Linked DNA regions of Homo sapiens: region 2 is linked to region 1. Evidence: fine-mapped expression QTL. A gene starts in region 1. The other region holds a variant in brackets. All regions are shown on one strand. Distances are from middle to middle. Region 1 holds the start of PARP2 (poly(ADP-ribose) polymerase 2). Region 2 overlaps RPGRIP1 (RPGR interacting protein 1).

What was found.
Region 2: its variant is fine-mapped to the expression of PARP2 in ovary (GTEx, PIP 0.97).

What each region holds. Positions count from the first base shown.
Region 1 is chr14:20,335,021-20,351,074 of GRCh38, reverse strand. PARP2 (poly(ADP-ribose) polymerase 2) reads right to left here and starts at 7,440. Exons shown (of 16, transcript NM_001042618.2): 1 at 7,388-7,440; 2 at 5,988-6,143; 3 at 5,611-5,681; 4 at 4,162-4,212; 5 at 453-549; 6 at 1-28. The coding sequence starts at 7,433. It also overlaps RPPH1. RefSeq lists enhancers at 7,358-7,527, 8,458-8,557.
Region 2 is chr14:21,295,600-21,303,599 of GRCh38, reverse strand. It overlaps RPGRIP1 (RPGR interacting protein 1), which reads right to left. Exons shown (of 25, transcript NM_020366.4): 4 at 2,363-2,634; 5 at 1,016-1,112; 6 at 57-269. Among named protein-coding and RNA genes, the nearest start is that of RPGRIP1, 20 kb to the right of the region's middle. The variant C/A (reference allele first, on the strand shown) is at 4,561.

The sequences.
Region 1 (16,054 bases):
ACCAGGCTGTGCTGTCCCATTTTCCCAACTGCAAAGGAAATGCCACACATAAGATAGTTCCCTAAGAGTAACAGGCCAGCTCTCCAAGATCTCTCTGCTTAACATCTGACAAACAGGCAGGAAAGGGAGAAGGGAAAGGTGAAAGGATTTAGGGAACTAATCATGTTGATACAAGTTACTTGCTAACTGCCATAGTCTATGAGCACTACTAGCAGTTCAACTATAGAAGAGTTTTCAGACTCAATGGGCTGCTCTTAGTTTTTCCAGTGGGAACTCTAAGGAGGATGCCTGCCATTCCCCAATTTCAAGATGCTCAACTTGATTCCTAAGGCTCTCCCAGACTTCAGAGCCTCTACTGACCCAATTTAAACCCAGAGAATCCTTTGGCCACCCACTAAGCTGCTTCTGACTTTCTGAATGCCAACTCATAAAATCTCAATAAAAATCATTACCTCGGCCCCATCTCATCCAAACACTGAAGTTCCTCTGGGCATCATCTTCTAATAGCTGAATCAGATAGTACTTGTTGTTGTTGAACTGGAGATTGGTCTATGTTGAGTGAAAACAAAAACAAAAAAAAGGAGTTTTGCAAATGGAAATCACATAAACCAATGACTCATCCTTCGTCACAGGTGCCAGTTATTTCCATAAGGAAAAGGATAGCATCAGGCAAGAAAATTAGATTCCTGTAAGATTAAAGATATAAAGAAGAAATAGGGCTTATACATTAAACTTTGGATTCTTAGGAATTAAAGTGGGAGCCTAGAAGCTTCCTAAAACCCTCTATCCAACCTCAAATATCCTACATTGAATGGCTCCTCCAGTTTTTTCCTGCCTCAGCTCCCTATTTAGATATTTTCTAAGCTATATGTGTTTTCCAGCTCCCAATCCACTCCCAATAATTATTTCCCAAATGAAAACAATTTGGATGCTCCAAAGGTCTAAACCTGTTATGCTCAACTGTTAAATGACTTACTCCTTGACAGTTCTACTCACAGCTTTTGTTTGTCAGCTGCAGAAATTTGACAATGAGCTGAGAGCAGGGCAATAATGGGAGGGGACAAGGGATACGCAAAACCACTGCCACATCCGTCCCATACCTAACCTGACCTGACTTGGAGATACTGAGAGAGAATATGGCCAGTATCTAAAAAGAGGTATCTGTAAGTAAATCACTCAGAGTGAAGAGAGAGAAGTCCATGATAAGGCATAGCAGCTGGTGTTGTATGGCCGAGCCCTGGATATGGAGGCATTCTTTTTTGTTAAGCATGCTGCCCCTTCCTACCTCTATCTCCTGCTTGCTCACATTCTAAAGCCATTGTACGACCTTAGCCCACTGGTGAAAAAAAAAAGGTCATTAGATGTTAGAACAAAAAGGAGCCTAAGATATTTTCTTTTTTTGAGACAGAGTCTTGCTCTGTCGCCCAGGCTGGAGTGCAGTGGTGCAACCTCCGCTCATTGCCACCTCTGTGTCCTAGGTTCAAGCAATTTCTTGTGCCTCAGCCTCCCTAGTAGCTGGGATTACAGGCACACGCCACCATGCCAGACTAATTTTTTTTTGTATTTTTAGTAGACATGGAGTTTCAACATGTTGGCAAGGCTGGTCTTGAACCCCTAACTCAAGTGATCTGCCCGCCTTGGCCTCCCAAAGTGCTGGGATTTTAGGCATAAGCCACCATGCCCAGCTTGATATTTTCTTTTCCTTTAAAAAATTTTTTTGTAAATGTTTTTATGGTTTTTATTTTTTATTTTTTTGAGATAGGGTCTCCCTCTGTCACCCAGGCTGGAGTGCAATGGCTCAATCACAGCTCACTGTAGCCTCAACCTCCCAGGCTCAAGCAATCCTCCCACCTCAGCCTCCAAAGTAGCTGGCCCATGCCCGGTGTTTTTGTATTTTTTTGTAGAGACAAGGTTTCACCATGTTGCCCAGGCTGATCTTGAACTCACACCTGAAGTGATTCTCCAGCCTTGGCCTCCGAAAGTGCTAGGATGACAGGCATGAGCCACCACACCTGGCTGCCTTAAGGTATTTTCCTTCTTTTCTTTTTTTTTTTGAGAAGGAGTTTTGCTCTTGTTGCCCAGGGCTGGAGTACAATGGTACGATCTCGGCTCACCACAAACTCCGTCTCCCAGGTTCAAGCAATTCTCGTGCCTCAACCTCCCGAGTAGCTGGGATTACAGTCATATGCCACCACACCTGGCTAATTTTGTATTTTTAGTAGAGATGGGATTTCTCCACATTGGTCAGGCTGGTCTTGAACTCCCGACCTCAGGTGATCCGCCCGCCTCAGCCTCCCAAAGTGCTGGGATTACAGGCGTGAGCCACTGCACCTGGCTAACCTTAAGGTATTTTCTATCTGCTCGTGGTATTTTAAGTAGAAGAAATAGTAAGAAATAAATACTAATTGGTTGTTAAAATTATATATGTTGGATCAATAAATTCAAACATGAAGTCATATCCAGGAAATATATTAATGAGGCAAATGTATTATCTACTCAAAACCACAAAGGTAAACAAGAGAAAAAGGTTGATTAAAAAGAAAGCTGAGCTTGGGGGCAGATGCCTGTAGTCCCAGCTACTTGGGAGGCTGAGGTTGGAGGATCACACGAGGTCACAAGTTCAAGGCCAGCCTGAGCAACATAGCAAGACACTGTCTCTAAAATTAAAAAAAAAAAAACCCAAAATTTTTTAAAAAGGAAAAATTAATAAATTTAACTACAGAAAAAATTTAAAACTTCAATATGGGCAAAAAGTGTACTATAAGGAAAACCAAAAGGTAAATGACAAATCTGGAAAACACAAGTGGTTTGTATTACAGACAAAAGGCTATTCTCCATATTATATAAAGTTCCTCGAAACCAGTAAGAAAAGGACCAATAACTTTAGAAAATGTGCAAAACAGCTTGTCCCAGTGGCTCATCCCTGTAATCCCAGTGCCTCATGAGGACAAGGCAGGAGGATCATTTGAGGCCAAGAATTCAAGACCACCTATCCAACATAGCGAGATTCTCATCTCCATAAAAAATTTAAAAATTAGTCAGGCTTTGTGGCATGCGCCTGAAGTCCGAGCTACTCAGGAAGCTTAGGTGGGAGGATTGCTGGAGCCCAGAAGTTCAAGGTTGCAGTGGGCTATGACTGTACAAACTGCACTCCAGCCTGGGTGACAGAACAAGATCCTGTCTGTTTAAAAAAAAAAAAAAAATGTGCAAAAGGATATGAACAGAGAGTTAACAATTTCAATAAATGATATGAAATTTGCAAAAAAAAATCTTCTCACAGAGGACTCTGCTATCTGATAAGAGTGTGCTAGGGCTGAGTACTCAGGTGTTTAACCACTAATGGCTAATATTAATATAAAGGACTTGCCGGGCGCAGTGGCTCATGCCTGTAATACCAACACTTTGGGAGGGTGAGGTGGGTGGATCACCTGAGGTCAGGGGTTCAAGACCAGCCTGGCCAACATGGTGAAACCCCATCTCTACTAAAAATACCAAAAAATTAGCCAGACACTGCACCTGTAGTCCCAGCTACTTGGGAGGCTGAGGCTGGAGAATTGCTTGAACCCAGGAGGCAGAGATTGCAGTGAGCCGAGATTGCACCACTGCATTCCAGCCTGGGTGACAGAGCAAGACTCTGTCTCAAAAAAAAAAAAAAAAAAAAAAAAAAAAAAAAAAATATATATATATATATATATATATATATATATATATATATATACACACACACATATGAAGGACTTTAGGCAAGGCGTGGTGGCTTACACCTGGTAATCCCAGCATTTTGGGAGGCTGAGGTGGGTGGATCACTTGAAGTCACGAGTTCGAGACCAGACCCTGGCTAACGTGGCGAAACCTTGTCTCTACTAAAAATACAAAAAATTAGCTGGGAGTGGTGGTGCACGCCTGTAACCCCAGCTACTTGGGAGGCTGAGGCAGGAGAATTGCTTGAACCTGGGAGGCAGAGGTTACAGTAAGCCGAGATTGTGCCACTGTATTCCAGCCTGAGAGATGAAGTGAGACTCCATTTCAAAAAGAAAAAACAAAATTTAAAAAAAAAAAAAAAAGGGACTTTAAAGATCTGAACACTGTGATGCTATCATCAATAATTATCAAGAAGATGGTCTCATAAATATAATGGTGCCACCTCTTCTTGCCTCTTACCTGATTTAGCATGACATCATAGACATCATTTCCTTCACAATACACATGAGCCTAGAAAGGGAGAGAGAGAAAAAATCAACATTAGTATAGGTTCAGCCCTGACATCCTAAATGAGGCTCTAAATTTTCTTATGGCTCAAGTCATCATTCTACAGCAACATCAACATTCATCTCCCAAGGAAAGAATTGCAAACCTATGTTCTACCAGTAACCTGGGTGTAACCTTACTATAAATGAAAACATGCTTCCTTTTTTTTAACTATACAAAAGATTCTGAGTTAGGCTGCGCATGGTGGCTCATGCCTGCAATCCCAGCATTTCGGGAGGCTAAGGTGGGCAGATCACTTGAGGTCAGGCATTCGAGACCAGCTTGGCCAACATGGTGAAGCCCCGTCTCTACTAAAAATATAAAAATTAGCCCAGGCTGGGCGTGGTGGTGGGCACCTGTAATCACAGCTACTTGGGAGGCTGAGGCAAGAGAATTACTTGAACCTAGGAAGTGGAGGATGCAGTGAGCTGAGATCACACCACTGCACTCCAGCCTGGGTGACCGAGTGAGACTCTATCTCAAAAAAAAAAAAAAAAAAAAAAAAGATTCTAACTGAGTTAAAGAAAACTTATTCCAGAGGTAGCCTTCTTTTTTCCCCATTCATCAGTAACTCATGCCATTCCAGGGTACAGTTTCTCATTAGAACAAGAAAACAGTTTTCCCTTAACAATGATACCATTTTCTGGTTTAAAAAGAGAATGAGGTGTAGAAGGCTGATGGCAACCACAAAAGGTACGCATGTGATATAGTTTGTATATTTGTCTCCTTCCAAATCTCATGCTGAATTGTAATCCTCAGTACTGGAGGTGGGGCCTGGTGGGAAGTGATTCAATCATGGAAGTGGATTTCTCATGAATGGTTTAGCACCACTGTCTTGCTGCTGTCCTCTTGATAGTGAGTGAATTCACACAAGATTTGGTAGTTTAAAAGCGTGTGACACCTCCCCATTCTCTCTTTCTCTCTCTGTGACACCTTCTCCAATCTCTCTCTCTCCCTTTCTCTCTGTCTCTCTCTCTCTCCCCTGCTTTTGCCATGTGACGTGCCTATTCCCGCTTCACCTTCTGCCATGAGTAAAAGTTTCCTAAGGTCTCCTGAGGAGCAGATACTGCTATGCTTCCTGTACAGCCTCTAGGAACCTCTTTTCTTATAAAATACCTAGTCTCAGGTATTTCTTTACAGCAATGCAAGAATGGTCTAACACACCATGTTAAAAAACACCCTGATTATTAACCCCAAGCCCTACCACTCCTATCTCTTGCCATTAGAGAAAACTACTCACTCATCATATTTTGGAGAGGATTCCTAAAATGAGTACTAACAGCATCCCAGACAGGAGTCCTTATAACAAAGGATGCTCTCTGAGATATCCATGGACTGAAGATCGGTTCCAGAGTCTCTTACCTTCCCCACCTTGGCTGTACACTCTGGGTCCACAGGAGCTTTGCCCTTTAACAGCAAGGCCTTCACAGATTCTGAGGAAAGACAGATAGGTACTACTTTATGGGAATCAAAAACAGCTGTTGTGGTAAAACAGAAACTTGTCAGGATTAACTTTGCCCGCCCAACCAATCCTGGTCTTTCCTTAGACCCCAATCCATCTCAAATACATGAAAATGAAGATTCAAGGCAGTAGATTAGTGCTGTGGTATGCCCAAAGGATAGAGAAATTAATTATTCCCTGAAAGAAGGACGAAATAGGAGTTGAAATAACAAGATATCATCCCCAGATCCACTCCTACCAGAGACCCTTTTGCTGGCCCATGACCTTCCTGGCATACCATCTTGCTTGTCTTCTGTCCTGTCCTTATTAGCTTTTCCTCCAGCCACAGGCATCTTTTTCGACTCCTGTCTCTGGCATCTACGAGTTTTCTTGGCAGGGGAAGAGTCTTCTGGAGCCGTGTTGCCATTATTAACTCTTTTGCTTTCATTTAATGCTACAGAATTTGGAAATTAGCAAAGAATGAGTACACACCCGAATACGTGTAGATTTTAAAGATTGAAAAAAATCTTTTAAAGAAATGGTTTAAGATAATTTTCTCTCTTTTTTTGTTTTGAGGTGGAGTCTCACTCTCTCGCCCAGGCTGGACTGCAGTGGTGCGATCTTGGCTCACTGCAACCTCCGCCTCCTGGGTTCAAGTGATTCTCGTGCCTCAGCCTCCTGAGTAGCTGGGATTACAGGCGTGCACCACCATGCCCAGTTAATTTTTGTATTTTTAGTAGAGACAGGGTTTCACCATGTTGGCCAGGCTGGTCTCGAACTCGTGACCTCAAGTGATCTGCCCTCCTCGGCCTCCCAAGGGATTACAGGCGTGAGCCACCTCACCCCGCCGGTTTAAGATAATTTTCTAAGTTTACAGAGGCAATAACAACTGTCCCACACTACTTTTGTGTAACAGTCTGTGTAATTCTTCCTAAATTGCTATTCTAGCCAAATGAAATAAAACAAAATAAAAGGGAGTCCCAGGAGTCTTGTAAGCTCATAGATTGAGGCCTGCTTATCTGTTTTACTTGTGTCCCAATGTCCCCCAAATACCCACCTCATACATGAGGCCGTATGGGATAAAGGTTAGTTAAGTGCTCAAGGGTCTGTGCCTAATTTAGAGCCTAGCTCTGCTGCTTTTCTCTGTGGAAACTTGGAGAAGTATTTGATCTCTTCCTACTTCACTTACTCCAATATTAGAATATTGTACAATACTGTACTTCTAGAGAAGTACAATAGAACCTAATTTATAGGGTGCACCTATGCATTTAAGAACATTATACACATAATACCGTATCTCAATAGGTCTAAGACTCGCATTTTACTCTCTGGAACTGGGATGCATCTTACAATGGATGACATAAGCAGTGAATCACAGTTCACCATTTTCAGTGCTTATCCTTTGTTGTGTATAAAATAATGGTGTGCCTTACAATTACTTTTTGTAAATTGGATGACATTAGGTATTAACAACAGTACTGGCACATTAGTTGTTACAGCTCCGCAAGGCTTTATGCACAATTATGTAATCCCCAAAGCTCTGAAAACCGAAATTTACAAAATTTAGCACCCCAACTGGTTTGGTAGCCAAGTGCAGGTTATAGGGAGCTGGAAGGGGAAGGGGGTCACAGTAGGTGGCATCGTTCCTTTCTGACTGCCCGCCCCCCGCATGCCGTCCCGCGATATTGAGCTCCGAACCTCTCGCCCTGCCGCCGCCGGTGCTCCGTCGCCGCCGCGCCGCCATGGAATTCGAACGCTGACGTCATCAACCCGCTCCAAGGAATCGCGGGCCCAGTGTCACTAGGCGGGAACACCCAGCGCGCGTGCGCCCTGGCAGGAAGATGGCTGTGAGGGACAGGGGAGTGGCGCCCTGCAATATTTGCATGTCGCTATGTGTTCTGGGAAATCACCATAAACGTGAAATGTCTTTGGATTTGGGAATCTTATAAGTTCTGTATGAGACCACTTTTTCCCATAGGGCGGAGGGAAGCTCATCAGTGGGGCCACGAGCTGAGTGCGTCCTGTCACTCCACTCCCATGTCCCTTGGGAAGGTCTGAGACTAGGGCCAGAGGCGGCCCTAACAGGGCTCTCCCTGAGCTTCGGGGAGGTGAGTTCCCAGAGAACGGGGCTCCGCGCGAGGTCAGACTGGGCAGGAGATGCCGTGGACCCCGCCCTTCGGGGAGGGGCCCGGCGGATGCCTCCTTTGCCGGAGCTTGGAACAGACTCACGGCCAGCGAAGTGAGTTCAATGGCTGAGGTGAGGTACCCCGCAGGGGACCTCATAACCCAATTCAGACTACTCTCCTCCGCCCATTTTTGGAAAAAAAAAAAAAAAAAAAAAACAAAACGAAACCGGGCCGGGCGCGGTGGTTCACGCCTATAATCCCAGCACTTTGGGAGGCCGAGGCGGGCGGATCACAAGGTCAGGAGGTCGAGACCATCCAGGCTAACACGGTGAAACCCCCCCCCATCTCTACTAAAAAAAAAAAATACAAAAAATTAGCCATTAGCCGGGCGTGGTGGCGGGCGCCTATAATCCCAGCTACTTGGGAGGCTGAAGCAGAATGGCGTGAACCCGGGAGGCGGAGCTTGCAGTGAGCCGAGATCGCGCCACTGCATTCCAGCCTGGGCGACAGAGCGAGTCTCAAAAAAAAAAAAACCGAGTGGAATGTGAAAAGCTCCGTGAAACTGCAGAAACCCTTTGGGAACAGAGGGAACCATGGGGCAGGAAGCCCACGAAAATTCTAATTGGTCTTCTGGTTCTTGGTGACATCAGGTGAGGGGCGCCCAAATGTTTGGCTTCATGAGAATCACCGAGTATGGGGACTGCATACTTAAGCAAATTCCCCACCCCAGACCCTCCGATTCAATAAGCCTGTATTAACAAAATCACTGGGTAATCCTGGTTTTGGCACTAATATCATTTAGAAACATATTGTTAGGATAGCATAGTATCTGTTATAGAGCAACCTGAGCAAAATAGCGAAACCTCGTCTCTATTACAAAAAAAAAAAAAAAAAAAGTGAAAAATTAGCCAGGCGTGGTCGCGGGCGCCTGTAATCCCAGCTACTTGGGAGGCTGAGGCACGAGAGTCGCTTGAACCCGGGAGGCGGAGGTTGCAGTGAGCCGAGATCCCGCCACTGAACTCCAGCCTGGGTGACAGAGTGAGACTCCGTCTGAAAAAAACAAAGAAAAAAAAATTGATACATTTTAATTTTTGTTCATCAAAAGATGTAAAGTTTAGAAAGAAAAAACCCAAAATCTCATTATTTGCATGTAATTTGATTATGAATATTTTAAAAGCTAGAAGAAACTACAGGATAAAAATTTTACCTTAATACAAAGCCTAGCAAGACTGATAGAAAATAGCGTGTGAAAATAAATTCCATGCTTATAAAAGAGCTTCAAACAACTATAAATAAAATTTTTGGATAAGGTAGCATTTACAATAACACCAAAGCATATCAAGTAGTTGGAAATAAATCTAACAAAATGTAAGTGCTCAATAAATGTTGTTGGATAGGATTGCTTAACCTGTTTCAGCGGTACAAAGCCTGTTACATCTGACTTAATTATGACACAAATAAATTAGACTAGGTCTAAAAGGAAATACTTTGGAGATAGGAAAAATATAAGCCTTTATGAAATGAAAATTTATTAAAAATAGCTAATACTTAGTAGAACTTTCTTGTGTACTAGAGGCTGAGCTAATGCTTTACATGCATAACCTCATTTAATCTTCATAAGAATAATAGCCAGAATTTATTTAGTTCTTACTATGCTATGAGCTTTACATACATTATTTAATTCTCACAACAACCTCATGAGGCATATGTTATTATCTCCATTTATAGTTGAGGAAACTGAGCTTTAGAAAAATTTAATTTATTCAAGATCACACAGTGTATTGCTAGGGCTGCTATAACTACATACATTGTCGTAATTCTGGCGGCTAGAGGCCCAAGGTAAAGGTCTTGACATGGCTGATTTCTTCTAAGGCCTGCCTCCCTCTCTCCTTGGCTTGTAGATGGATGCTGTCTTTCCTCTCTGTGCATCTATGTCCTAATCTCCTTTATTTTATTTATTTATTTATTTTTTGAGACAGAGTCTTGCTCTGTTGCCCAGGCTGGAGTGCAGTGGCAAGATCTCGGCTCACTGCAACCTCCACCTCCCAGGTTCTTGAGCGATTCTCCTGCCTCAGTCCCCTGAGTAGCTGGGACTATAGGCGTGGGCTACCACACCTGGCTAATTTTTGTATTTTTATTAGAGACAGGGTTTCACCATGTTGGCCAGGCTGGTCTCAAACTCCTGACCTCAAGTGATCCACCCGCCTCAGCCTCCCAAAATGCTGGGATTATAGGCGTGAGCCACGGTGCCTGGCCCTTAATCTCCTTTTCTTATAAGGACATCAGTGATATTGGATTATTCCCAACCCGTATGACCTTATTTTATCTTAATTACCCCTTTACATGTCCTATCTCCAAATACAGGCAGATTCTGAGATAATGAGAGTTCTTCAAATACATACATTTTGAGGTGACACAATTCAGCTCATAATATACAGTTCCTAAAAGGCAGGGCCAGATCTGGGTGACTCCAAATTATGTTGTTATCTACTAGGCTAATGTATTCTGTTTCATGACAGTAGTTACCATCCCACACACATTTTTAAAAATGTATTTTTAAAGTTTTTATTGATTCTTTTTCTTTTTTAGTTATTATGGTGGTCAGAGTGAGAATTACTGAAAATATATTGTGAAGATATAACTTCTTTATAGTCAAATACAGAACAAGTGTAACTAAAATAGTACTGAAGCATGTCACCAATAACTGGAAGAAACCGGCTGGGTGCGGTGGCTCATGCCTGTAATCCCACCTCTTTGGGAGGCCAAGGCAGGCGGATCACCTGAGGTGAGGAGTTCGAGACCAGCCTGGCCAACATGGTGAAACCCCCTCTCTAGCACAAAATTAGCTGGGCATGGTGGTGGGTGCCTGTAATCCTAGCTACTCAGGAGGCTGAGGCAGGAGAAGCTTGAACTGGGGAGGCGGAGGTTGCAGTGAGCCAAGATCGCACCACTGCACTCCAGCCTAGGTGACGAGAGCGAGACTCTGTCTGAAAAACAAAAACAAAAAAAGCCTGGAAGAAACCAACAAATTTATTTTCATAATTAAAACCAAAACCTCTATAGATAAGTGGATGAAAGATATTAATAAACAGTTTGCATTTGATAAATAAGTGCATGGAAAAGATATTCAGGCTCACATAGTATGAAAAATACAAATTAATATTCGACAGGACAACTGGCCTACTCTCTTCATACTATTATGTAAAAAAAAAATTGTTAGGACTGTTTTAGAGTAAAAGAGACATTTGAAGCCTAACAGCCAAATGCAATGTTTGGATGCTGGTTTGAACAAGCCAGCAATAAATGGGGATATGTGGATATGGACTGGAAATTGGATGATTTTAGGGAATTATTTATTAGATATTATAATGGTATTCTAGTTAGGTTTAAAATAATGATATTCTAGTTATGATTTTAAAATGTCCTTTAGGGTAGGTGTGGGGGCTCATGCCTGTAATCTCAGCAGTCAGAACTTCAGGCAGGAGGATTGCTTGAGCCCAGGAGTTCAAGACCAGCCTGGTCAACATGGCGAAACCCGACTCTACAAAAAGTGCAAAAATTAGCTGTATAATTTATCACTTGAGCCTGAGAGGTCAAGGCTGCTGTGAGCTGTGATCATGCCACTGTACTCCAGCCTGGGTGATAGAGTAAGACCCTTTCTCAAAAGGAAAAAAAAAGTTCTTTAAAAAAAGCATGCTATAGTATTTTCTGATAAGACATCACGTTATCTAGAATTACTTTATTTTTACAGATGGAGTGCAGTGGTGTGATCTCAGCTCACTGCAACCTCTGCCTCCGGGTTTCAAGCAATTCCCCTGCTTCACTCCAGTGTGGGCAATAGGGTAAGACCCTGTCTAAAAAATAAGATAAATTTAAAAATAAATAAATAAAATGAAAGTTAGATCATGTTAGATTTTTGTTCCAGTGGCTCCCCATCTCAAATGCTGTGGCTTGACCAGGCTCTATATGATCTGCTTCTTACCCCAGTGCTTTGATTTCATCTGCTACTATTTTTCCCTTTGCTTACTCCTGTTAGGCACTCTGGCCTCTTTCCACTTTGTCTCAAACATACCAGTCACTCTTCTCCCTACAGGCTTCTGTTCTCTCTACCTGGTCTACTCTTCTTCCAGCTAACAAGATTGATCCCTGACTTTCTTCAGGTCTTTGTTCTTAGTAGCAGTGGTGCCTTCCTTGATATAAATAACATCACTCCCATTATCACTTGTAGCCTCTTACTCTGCTTTATTTTTTTCCAGAGTACTAATTACAACTTAACATATATTTGTTTAATTTTTAGGAGATCTGACTCTCTCCAATAGACTGTAAGCTCCAAGTGAGCCAGGGCTTTGTGTATTTTGTTTCCTGCTCTGTAACCAATGCCTGGAACAGTATCTAGCTTTCAATGATATTTGTTGAATGAGATACTAAATAAGACAGGGTGTCAAGGAGCAAGGGGTATGACTTGAAAAAGAGGGTGGGTTCTGAAGGAAAGGTGAGACTTTATTGAACTTCACTGTCTTGAGGATTTCTCTTTCCTACCTTATTCAAAGAGGTGGATCTTGAGAGTTGTTTAAAAAAGAAATTCAGAATCAAAAAGATCAGTAATTGAAGGAAACTAGTAAGATTTTAAAAGCTTTGAAATTCCACAAGTATGGTTTATTATATTGCCTGATGTTATAAATATGTTTCCAAACTTATTTATATTTATTTATATATTATATTGCCTGATGTTATAAACAAATTTCCAAATTTATTATTTGCCAATTTTCCAAAAGTGATCAGCAAAGCTGCGGATCAGGACCACCATTTAAAGGAATTTGCATACATGTCTTCAGGAATAGCTAGGAAAGGGATGTTGATGAGAACCTTCTACTTTGCTACAACTTTGGAAGGAAAGGATCCTCAAGAGATATTAATTTAAAATGGAGAGAGTTCTGAGACGTATTAAAAGGGGGAAAGTAGTAGCTCAGAGTTGGGGTAGGAGGTGTTGAACATGTAGAAGGCCCAATCTCTGGAGTCCTAGGTTCAACTTGGGGGATAGGCATTCAATGTGGTGTCCATTTAGCCTTTGAAGCCTGTCCTTTGCTGCCTTAGGGGGTTGGGGTCTCCTACTTTTCTCTTCTCCCCTCTAAATTGAAACCTACTCTTGGATCTCTACCCTTATTTTGTGGAGAGGTACTGTTTTATTTTTTAAACACGAACACATTCTTCTCGTAAAACATTGCAGATATTCAAAACCAAAAAGCTCCTCCCTTAATTCCCTCAATCCTTCTCCTTGGAGTAACTTGTTAGCAGTTTGGTGTGTCTCTTTCCAGACTATTTTCTTTTCATTTACTTGCAAAAATGTGCACATACAGAATTATTCTATTTTGCATTTTTTGTGGGGGGGGGGAGAAGTGTTACATAAATGTGAGCATATTACATGGTGTTATTCTTGGCTATTTTCACTTCATATGCATTGGAGATGTTTTCATGTCAGTACATGCAGATTTACTTCATTCTGTTTAACTACTGGGTAGTATCTCATAGAATGGTTGTATCATTTAAAAAATGTTGTGGGTACATAATAGGTGTATAAATTTATGGGGTATATGAGATATTTATTTATTTACTTATTTATTTGAGACTGAGTCTCGCTCTGTCACCCAGGCTGGAGTGCAATGGTGCGATCTCATCTCACTGCAACCTCCGCCTCCGTGGTTCAAGCGATTCTCCTGCCTCAGCCTCCTGAGTAGCTGGGATTACAGGCGCACACCACCATGCCCGGCTAATTTTTGTATATTTTAGTAGAGATAGGGTTTCACCATGTTGGTCATGCTGGTCTTGAACTCTTGACCTCGTGATCCACCCGCCTTGGCCTCCCAAAGTGCTGGGATTACAGGCGTGAGCCGCCGCACCCAGCACATGAGATGTTTTATGTGCAATGTGAAATAAACACATCCTGGAGAATGGGGTATCCATCCCCTGAAACCTTTATCCATGGACAGTCTTTCAGTTATTTTAAAATGTACAATTAAGTCATTATTGACTATAGTCACCCTATTGTGCTATCAAATAGTAGGTTTTATTCATTCTTTCTAACGATTTTTTTGTACCCATTAACCACCCCTGCCGCCAAGGAATAGTTGTATCATGATTTAATGATCTTTGAATAGACATGGGTGTTTCTAATTGTTTTGCTGTCATAACCAGTGCTACAAGGAACATCCTTCCTTGAACATGCCCATTTGAGCACAATAGTTCTCCAGGGTGGATAACCAAATGTAAACTTGCAAAGGAGATGCTTAATTTTTAATTACAGACAAATGGCCATTCTCAATTCTTCATTTTGAATAAATTATAAATGAAATTTTTAGAGTGCTGCCTTTTCCAAGAGTTTACTCACTTCAGCAGTGATAACATCCCTTTTTTCCTTTTTTTAAATTTATTTTTTATTTCAATAGGTTTTTGGGGAGCAGGTGGTGTTTGGTTACTGGTGATTTCTGAGATTTTAGTGCGCCCATCACCAGAGCAGTGTACACTGTACTCAGCATGTAGTCCTTATCCCTCAACCCCACCACCCTTTCAGTGATAACATCCTTAAACGATAGTCATTCAGTTGGTGTTCTCCAAAGGGTGAGCCTCAAATCTACCGGAAGTACCTGAGGGTGCTTATTAAAATACATATTCCTGAGTCCCACCCACTGAATTAGAATCTCTGAACGTGTGTCCCAGGAATCTACTTTTTTTTGAAACAGGGTCTCACTCTGTTGCCCAGGCTAGAGTGCAGTGGTGTAAACACAGCTCACTACAACCTCTACCTTCTGGGCTCATGCTCTCTTCCCGACTCAGCCTACCTTAGTAGCTGGGACTATAGAGGCATCACCACTCTTGGCAATTTTTTATTTTTATTGTTTGTAGAGACAGTTGTTTTACCATGCTGCCCAGGCTGCCCTCAAACTCTTGGGCTCAAGCGCTCCTTCTGCCTCCACCTACCAAGTATTGGGACTACAGATGTGACCTACCACACCTGGCCCCAGGAATCTATCGACTTTTAAACAATTTCAAAGTTATTTTACAGAGCACAAAATTTTGATGTTACCAGCTGAAGAGAATTTCATCATGGATTATTATAAGTATTAAAGCCTGGAATACAGAATATCATAAAGAAATGTTAGATATTTAATGGGAATTTGAAAAGAATATTGTACTTTCTAAGGTTTTCTGAAATCACACAATATAGGAAGCAGTGCAATGTGGTGGTTGAGTTTGGGCTGTCAAGTTGGATGGCTGCTGTCTCAGTTTGTTTTCTGTTGCTTATAACAGAATACCTGAAACTGGGTCACTTATTTATTAGTTTGTTTTTTAATTAATTTATTTTTTGGATACAAAGTCTTGCTCTGTCTCCCAGGCTGGAGTATAGCGGTACTCCAAACCTACACCTCATTAGTTCAAGCGATTCTCCTGCCTCGGCCTCCCAAGTAGCTGGGATTACAGGTGTGCACCACCATGCCTGGCTAATTTTTTGTATTTTTAGTAGAGATGGGGTTTCGACATGTTGGCCAGGCTGGTCTCGAACTCCTGGCTTCAAGAGATCCACCTGCTTCGGCCTCCCAAAGTGCTAGGATTACAGGTCTAAGCCATCACACCAAGCCTGGTTTATTTATTTATTTAGTTAGTTTTTGAGACAGGGCCTCACTCTGTCACTCAGGCTGGACTGCAGTGGCACAATCTTGGTTCACTGCAACCTCCGCCTCCCGGGTTCAAGTGATCGATCCTCCCACCTCAGCTTCCTGAGTAGCTGGGACTACAAGCCCATACCACCATGCTCAGCTAATTTTTGTATTTTTAGTAGAGACGAGGTTTTGCCATGTTGGCTAGGCTGTGGGGTAATTTATTTTAAAAAAGAAATTTATTTTTTGCAGTTATGGATGCTGTGAAGTCCAAGGTTAAGGACTGCCTCTGGGTTGCATCTGAACTCCTTCTTGCTGGAGGGGACTCGCTGTGATGTTCCAAGGCGTGGCAGGAAATCACATGGCCAGGATGCTGAGACTGCTAACATGCTATCCTTAAGTCTCTTTGCCTTTTCTTTAAAGCCACTAGTTCCCCTCCCATGATAACCTATTAATCCATGAATAGATTAATTTATTTATGAGGGCAGAACCCTCATGATCCAGTCACCTCTTGAAGGCCCCACTTCTAATGAGGATTAAGTTTCAGCCACTTTAGGGATTAAGTTTCAACATGAATTTTGTAAAAG
Region 2 (8,000 bases), 960 kb before region 1:
ATCTCTTAGCTTTTTCAGTTCGTTTTGGTTTGAGGCATGGAGTGCCACACTCTTACCGAAGCTCTGCAGCCTTCTGAGCACACTCCAATGAGCTTCTCTGTTCAAAATTTTCATCTTTAGGCCACATTTTCTCAGGAGACTTGGGTGGCTCTTCCACTTGCATGGTATTGCTGGCCATGATGTGGGCACTGTTAGGCATGCATAGACCAATGGGTTTAGCCATACTTATGACACTGCTGAAAGAAATTATGCTGTTAGAACCAGAAACACTAAATACAAAAAGGATACTTAGAAACTGTTGTTACAGGAGTTTAGAATTGGGTTCTTACACATATAAAAAGAAATTAAGTGAATCAGTAACCTTGGTACATGTCGAGGAAAATCTTATAAAATACAGCTTTCAAATGTCAAACAAAACATAAAGGAATTATGGGCCAGGCGTGGTGGCTCACACCTGTAATCCCAGCACTTTGGGAGGCCAAGGCGAGCAGATCACAAGGTCAGGAGTTGGAGACAAGCCTGGCCAACATAGTGAAACCCTGTGTCCACTAAAAATACAAAAATTAGCTGGGCATGGTGGCACATGCCTGTAGTCCCAGCTACTTAGGAGGCTGAGGCAGGAGAATTGCTTGAACCTGGGAGGCAGGGGTTGCAGTGAACCAAGATCACGCTGCTGCACTCCAGCCTGGGCAACAGAGCAAGACTCCATCTCAAAAAAAAAAAAAAAAAAAAAACACAACAAAGGAATTATGACCTAAGGAAAAAAATATAAATGTAAATAGAGGGAATACCTTCAACTGAGAAATGGACCTTTATTTTCATTTCCTCAGAGAACAGAGAGACGCTTGTTTTCCACTTTTAAGCAATGAAGTTGGAATTTGACCTAGGGTCGACTTTCATCTTCCCTGATCATGCTGAAAAGACTCAAATCACCAACATTCATTTGTTCCCTAAATGATGTCTTTCTAATTAAAGTGGCAGGAATAACAACATGGGATAAATGAGAAGAACTCACAGTTCACTGGGTTTACTGGCTACTTCACCTCTGTTTTCATTTGTCGCATGCTCCTTAAACGATGGAGGGGCTGTGTAGCTCAGCCTGTCCCTTGGCCCTAAAAGTTTAGACAGAAGATGCAGACTCGGGCAACAGTACCCTCCGGAACACCAAGTACTGAAACTGGAACATGAAGGGCTGGGCATAGAGTCTTGAGACCTGGGTGAAACCCTTGTATGACAAATGGTCCCCGAGGAGCAGTTTTTTTTTTACTCTTGCAAAAAACTGCAACTAAAGTCAGCCAGACTATAGATCCTCAAGTGAGTAAGTACAAATAGGAAGAAAAAAGAAAGGTGGAAGCTTGTCCAGGGCAGAGACTGTGTGTCTAACTCTAACCATCTTTGTATCTAGTGCCCAGTACATAACAGGTGGCCAGCTATGCTGAACTGTTAAATGGAACTGAAATTTAAATTCATGCAAGTTTTCTACTTTCAGTTGTTTTTGCATGCGTTTGGTTGTCTGGAGTATGGAACTTGAAATTATAGGACCACACTAAGCAAAATAAGTGAGTACTTACTAATAAAATAAGAGTACTTAATGAAATGCTGTGTGTAGATTTCCTTTACCTAGGTTACTCATTCCTGATTTAGGGCCATGAGAATGAGGTGTCTACTCTAGAGATTCAACGTTGAGTTTTCTTTTTGGGGGTTTTGTTTTGTTTGTTTTTTGAGGCAGAGTGTCACTCTGTTGCCCAGGCTGGAGTTCAGTGGTGCCATCTGGGCTCACTGCAGCCTCCGCCTCCCAGGCTCAAGCGATCCTCCCACATCAGCTTCCCAAGTAGGTGGGACTGCAGGCATGTGCCACCAGGCTTGGCTAATTTTTTATTATTATTATTATTATTATTATTATTATTATTATTATTATTATTTTGAGACAGAGTCTCGCTCTGTCGCCAGGCTGGACTGCAGTGGTGCAATCTCAGCTCACTGCAACCTCCGCCTCCCGAGTTCAAGTGATTCTCCTGCCTCAATCTCTCGAATAACTGGGACTACAGGTGCGCGCCACCATGCCCAGCTAATTTTTGTATTTTTATTAGAGACGGGGTTTCACCATGTTGGACAAGGATGGTCTCCATCTCCTGACCTGTTGTCTGATTCTGCCCTCAGCGACACTCCATGGTGAATTTAGAATTTTGAATCTGATATCCCAACTCAGGAAATAAAGATTTTAGGGAGGCAGAAAGGAGGGAGTGAGAACAAAAGAACAAAATGGGGTGGTGGGCAGAAGAAGGCAGTGAGGAAAACGTGGCTGGCACATCAGTCCTTCCCAGTGTCTTAGCCCTGTAGGGGATGTAGCCTTAAATCTCACCCCTCTTGGGTTTCTCCGGCACCGGTGCACCGGCTGTGTGGAGCTGTCTGTGTCCCACTTGGACGCGAGGCTGGGCGCGGCGGGGGCTGGCAGGGCCGACGCAGTGGAAATGCCCTTGCAGTCGGTGCATCTGGGGGCGCTGGTGCATGGAGAGGCGCTGCCGCCATCCCGCCTTCTGCCCGCGCCTTGCGGTCTCCGAGAGCGGCGCCGCCTCCTCCGCGACCCGCAGGTCCCGGCCAGCAGCGGTCAACCGCAGCAAGGTGGTCCTCAGCCTGTGGACAAATAGAGCACGTGGCTTCTCCTTTCATGACAGTTATTATTTCTACGGGTTATTTGGGACATATAATCACGAATTGATCTATAATATGTATTCATCTACCGTGATCTATTAACCACACTTTAAAAAGATTAGCCTTCTGTCCCCAGTACACTGTAACTCTTTGAGGGCAGGGCCATTGTGATACCTGTCTTTATTTTATTGCAGTGATTACACCCTTATCTTAGTAAAAAAAAAAAAAAAAAAAAAAAAAAAGTTGAGCCACTACCCCAATAGTATTTGTGTGCATTTAAAAAAATTATATATAGACTTGTTTTTGTACTAATAAATTGTCATTATAAAACAAAATATGTATGTTTAAATGGGTGACAAATATAAATAACAATTTTAATATTTGCTTTTTCTATCCCACTTGTCTACACACCCCTGTATATGTGCTCCAAATTAAGGATAACTCCTTTATAACTTTTAGTAACAATTTTTATTTGTTATCTTGACCTAAAATCATGGTTTTTTTGCTACTATCTGATTCTATGCTCTCACTGTGCTATGGCCTGAATTGTGTCCCCACTCAAAATTCTTATGTTGAAGCCTTAACCCCCAGTGTGACTGTATCTGGACATTGGGTGTTCCGGAGGCTTTTTTTTTTTTTTTTGAGACGGACTTTTTCTCTTGTTTCCCAGGCTGGAGTGCAATGGCACGATCTCAGCTCACCACAACCTCTGCCTCCCAAGTTCAAGCGATTCTCCTGCCTCAGCCTCCTGAGTAGCTGGGATTACAGGCATGCGCCACCACGCCTAACCACAAAATACTAATTTTGTATTTTTAGTAGAGACAGGGTTTCTCCATGTTGGTCAGGCTGATCTCGAACTCCTGACCTTAAGTGATTCGCCCGCCTTGGCCTCCCAAAGTGTTGGGATTACATGCGTGAGCCACCGCGCCCGGCCTTTGGAGGTTATTAAGTTTAAATGAGTTCACAAGGGTGGGGCCCTAACTGGATAGGACTGTGGCCTTGTAACAAGAGATCTCCCTCTCCCACCTCCCAAGACACAGTGAGAAAGCAGCAGTCAGCAAGCTAGAAAGATGGCCCTTACCAGGATCCAACCACGCTGACACTTTGATCTCAGACTTCCAGCTTCAGAACTCTGAGAAAACCAATGTCTGTTGTTTCAGCCACCCAGTCCGTGGTATTTTGTTATGGCATCCTGAGCTGACTAAGACACACTGCCCGTCTGTTCTGACATTTACTAACTGTAGCTTTGGCCATGCCACTTAACCTTTCTGTGCTCAGTTTCCTCATTTATAAATAAAGATAAATAGAAAAAGATAAAAGCAGTAGATTGTTGTGAGGATTAATAAGCTTATATATAAATATATATGTAAAATGCTTAGAACAGTGGGGTTACACTGTAAGGGCTTCAGGTGTGAGCTATTATTATTACATATCATTATACCCAGATAAAGAAAACAAGGTGTAAAATAGCTATGTAACTTGCCCAAAGCCAGGGGCATAGAATCCAGATTAACCATTTAGCATCCATAATCTCAAGTACTCTTTGATTATCAACCAAGAAACTAGATTTTTTGGCCCATACAACCTTCTGACTTCACTCAAGTCACTAGATTCTCAAGTTCTCAACAATTAAAAAAAAAAAAATCGGCCCTTTGCGGTGGCTCACGCCTGTAATCCTAGCACTTTGCCGGGCTGAGGTGGGCGGATCACCTGAGGTCAGGAGTTCGAGACCAGCCTGACTAACATGGAGAAACCCTGTCTGTAATTAGCTGCACGTGGTGGCACATGCCTGTAATCCCAGCTACTTGGGAGGCTGAGGCAGGAGAATCGCTTGAATCTGAGAGGCGGAGGTTGCGGTGAGCCGAGATCACGCCATTGCACTCCAGCCTGGGCAACAAGAGCGAAACT[C/A]CCATCTCAAAAAAAAAAAATCACCAACTCTGAAGAGTGCTGATCCACAATGGAGGCCTGCATTCCTGCAGATTCTTTTTTTTTTTTTTTTTTTTTTTATGAGACAGAGTCTCACTCTGTTGCTCAGGCTGGAGCACAGTGGTGCGATCTCTGCTCACTAGAGCCTCAGCCTCCCGGGTTCAAGAGATTCTCCTGCCTCAGCCTCCCGAGTAGCTGGGATTACAGGCGCCCACCACCACACCCAGCTAATTTTTGTATTTTTAGTAGAGACGGGGTTTCACCATGTTGAACAGGCTGGTCTTGAACTCCGGACCTAGTGATCTACCCGCCTTGGCTTCCCAAAGTACTGGAATTACAGGCATGAGCCACCACGCCCGGCCAATCCTGCAGATTCTAAACGAAGATCTTAATCACTCCTGGGGGTTACAATGAGAAAGCAAAACACTGCCCTTGACATTAGGAAACTGGTCTGACACAACTGGTCCTCAGTGTTGTTTGAAGCTAGTCTGTGCTATCTCCATTTGTTTTTGTTTTCGTTTTGAGACCGAATCTCACTCTGTCACTCAGCCTGGAGTGCAGTGGCGCAATCCTTGCTTACTACAACCTCCGCCTCCTGGGTTCAAGCGATTCTCTTGCCTCAGCCTCCTGAGTAGCTGGGATTATAGGCGCCTGCCACCACGCCCGGATAATCTTTGTATTTTTAGAAGAGACGGGGTTTCACCACGTTGGCCAGGCTGGTCTCTGAACTCCTGACCTCAGGTGATCTGCCCACCTCAGCCTCCCAAAGTGTTGGAACTACAGGCATGAGCCACCGTGCCCAGCCACTATTCTTTTGGACACCTCACAGAACATCAACATGAAACAAGTTCACTCCAAAACCATGATAGAATGATACAAAACAAGTCCACTGCCTAATTTTGTCTGCTTACAGACAAAATTAGTGTCACTGCCACCCACAAAATACCAAACATCCTTCTCTCCAGGTTAATATGAGTGACTGCAACTTCTTTACCAATCATGGCTTCAGCCTTGCACTAGTTTACCCTCCCTGTAGATAAGATTTATTGATACTTGATTCCAGGAAGTTGAGGCTAAAGTGAGCTGAGACTGCACCACTGCACTCCAGCCTGTGTGCCAGAGTGAGACCCTATCTCAAAAAAAAGAAAGAAAGAAAGAAAGAAAGAAAGAAAGAAAGAAAGAAAGAATAATTTATTGAGATACCGAAACATAGAATTGTGCTTGCTTTCTGACAGCATGAAATCTGGAGCAAACTTCTGTTTCCTTGGATCCTCCCCCAAAATCACCCAATCAAACAAAGCTTAGATACTATAATAAGTTCTAACACATTTGCTGAGATGCCTTTAGTTCCCCTGGTGTGCATATTCTCTAGCTGTAATGAATAAGCCCAGCTTGCTCAACTGTTGGTATGTTCCTGGTGGTCCTTGGCTGGAAGGCATTGACACCAGTATCTTCAAAATGTGTCCTAGAGATAGACTCCAGACTTTGAGAACTCCCATTCTTCCCATCTGTTTACCTTCCCTCACCTCCGTCTCAGATTTCTTTCCAGGTCCCCATTTTCTAAAGAAAGAAATCTAAGATCACTGTATATAATAATATGTTTTGAAGTTAAGAGTTTTTCCCACTGGGACAGGCGCGGTGGCTCACACCTGTAATCCCAGCACTTTGGGAGGCCGAGGCAGGCGGATCACTTGAGGAAAGGAGTTCGAGACCAGCGTGGCCAACATGGTGAAACCCTGTCTCTACTAAAAATACAAAAATTAGTCAGGCATGGTGGCACATGCTTGTAATCCCAGTTACTTGGGAGGCTGAGGCAGGAGAATCACTTGAACCCGGGAGGCAGAGATTGCCGGTGAGCCGAGATTGCGCCACTGCACTCAAACCTGAGTGACACAGCAGGACTCTGTCTCAAAAACAAAACAAAACAAAACAAAACAAAAAGAGATTCCACCTCTGTTATGCACTAGGTATGATCTCAGGCAACTTATTTAACCTCTTTATGCTTCCTTTTCCTCTTAATAATACCTCTTCAGACTATTAAATGAATTAATACTTTTTTTTTTTTTTTTTAGATGGAGTCTTGCTCTTGTCGCCCAGGCTGGAGTGCAATGGCACAATTTCGGCTCACTGCAACCTCTGCCTCCTGGGTTCAAGTGATTCTGCTTCAGTCTCCCGAGTAGCTGGGATTTCAGGCGCCCACCACCACGCCCAGCTAATTTTTGTATTTTTAGTAGAGACAGGGTTTCATCATGTTGGTCAGGCTGGTCTTGAACTCCTGACCTCGTGATCCACCCGCCTTGGCCTCCCAAAGTACTGGGATTATAGGCGTGAGCCACTGTGGCTGGCTAATTAATACTATTTCTAATAAATTAACTGGGCACGATGGGTCATGCCTGTAATCCCAGTACTTTGGGCGGCCAAGATGGGGGGATCATTTGAGGTCAGGAGTTTGAGACCAGCCTGGCCAACATGGTGAAACCCCATCTCTACAAAAAATACAAATATTAAGGCCTGGCGTGTTGGCTAATGCCTGTAATCCCAGCACTTTGGGAGGCCAAGGTGGGTGGATCACCTGAGGTCAGGAGTTTGAGACTACCGTGGCCAACAGGGTGAAACCCCATCTCTACTAAAAAAAAAAAAAAATTAGCCAGGCATGGCTGGGCACAGTGGCTCACACCTGTAATCCTAGCGCTTTGGGAGGCCGAGGCAGGCTGATTGCCTGAGCTCAGGAGTTCGAGACCAGCCTGGGCAGCACGGCCAGTGGTGGCAGTGGGCACCTATAGTCCCAGCTACTCGGGAGGCTGAGGCAGGAGAATCGCTTGAATCCGGGAGGCGGAAGTTGCAGTGAGCCGAGATCGCACCACTGCACTCCAGCCTGGGCGACAGATGGAGACTCCGTCTCCAAAAAAAAAAAAAAAATTAGCTGGCCATGGTGGTGTGTGCCTGTAGTCACAGCTACTTGGGAGGCTGAGACAGGAGAGTTGCTTGAACCTGGGAGGTGGAGGTTGCAGTGAGCCGAGACTGCGCCACTGCACTCCAGCTTGGGCAACGGAGCGAGGTTTCATCTCAAAACAACAAAAAAAATTACTCTGACGTGGTGGTGCAAGCTTGTAATTCCAGCTACTCAGGAGGCTGAGGGAGGGGAATCGCTTGAACCCAGTAGGCAGAGGTTGCAGTGAGCCGAGATCACACCACTGCACTCCAGCCCAAACAGAGTGAGACTCTGTCTCAAAAATAAATAAAAATTGGCTGGCGTGGTGGCTCAAGCCTGTAATCCCAGCAATTTGGGAGGCCGAGGCAGGCGGATCACCTGAGGTCAAGAGTTCAAGACCAGCCTGACCAACATGGAGAAACCCCGTCTATACTAAAAATTAGCTGAGTGTGGTGGCGCATGCCTATAATCCCAGCTACTTGGGAGGCTG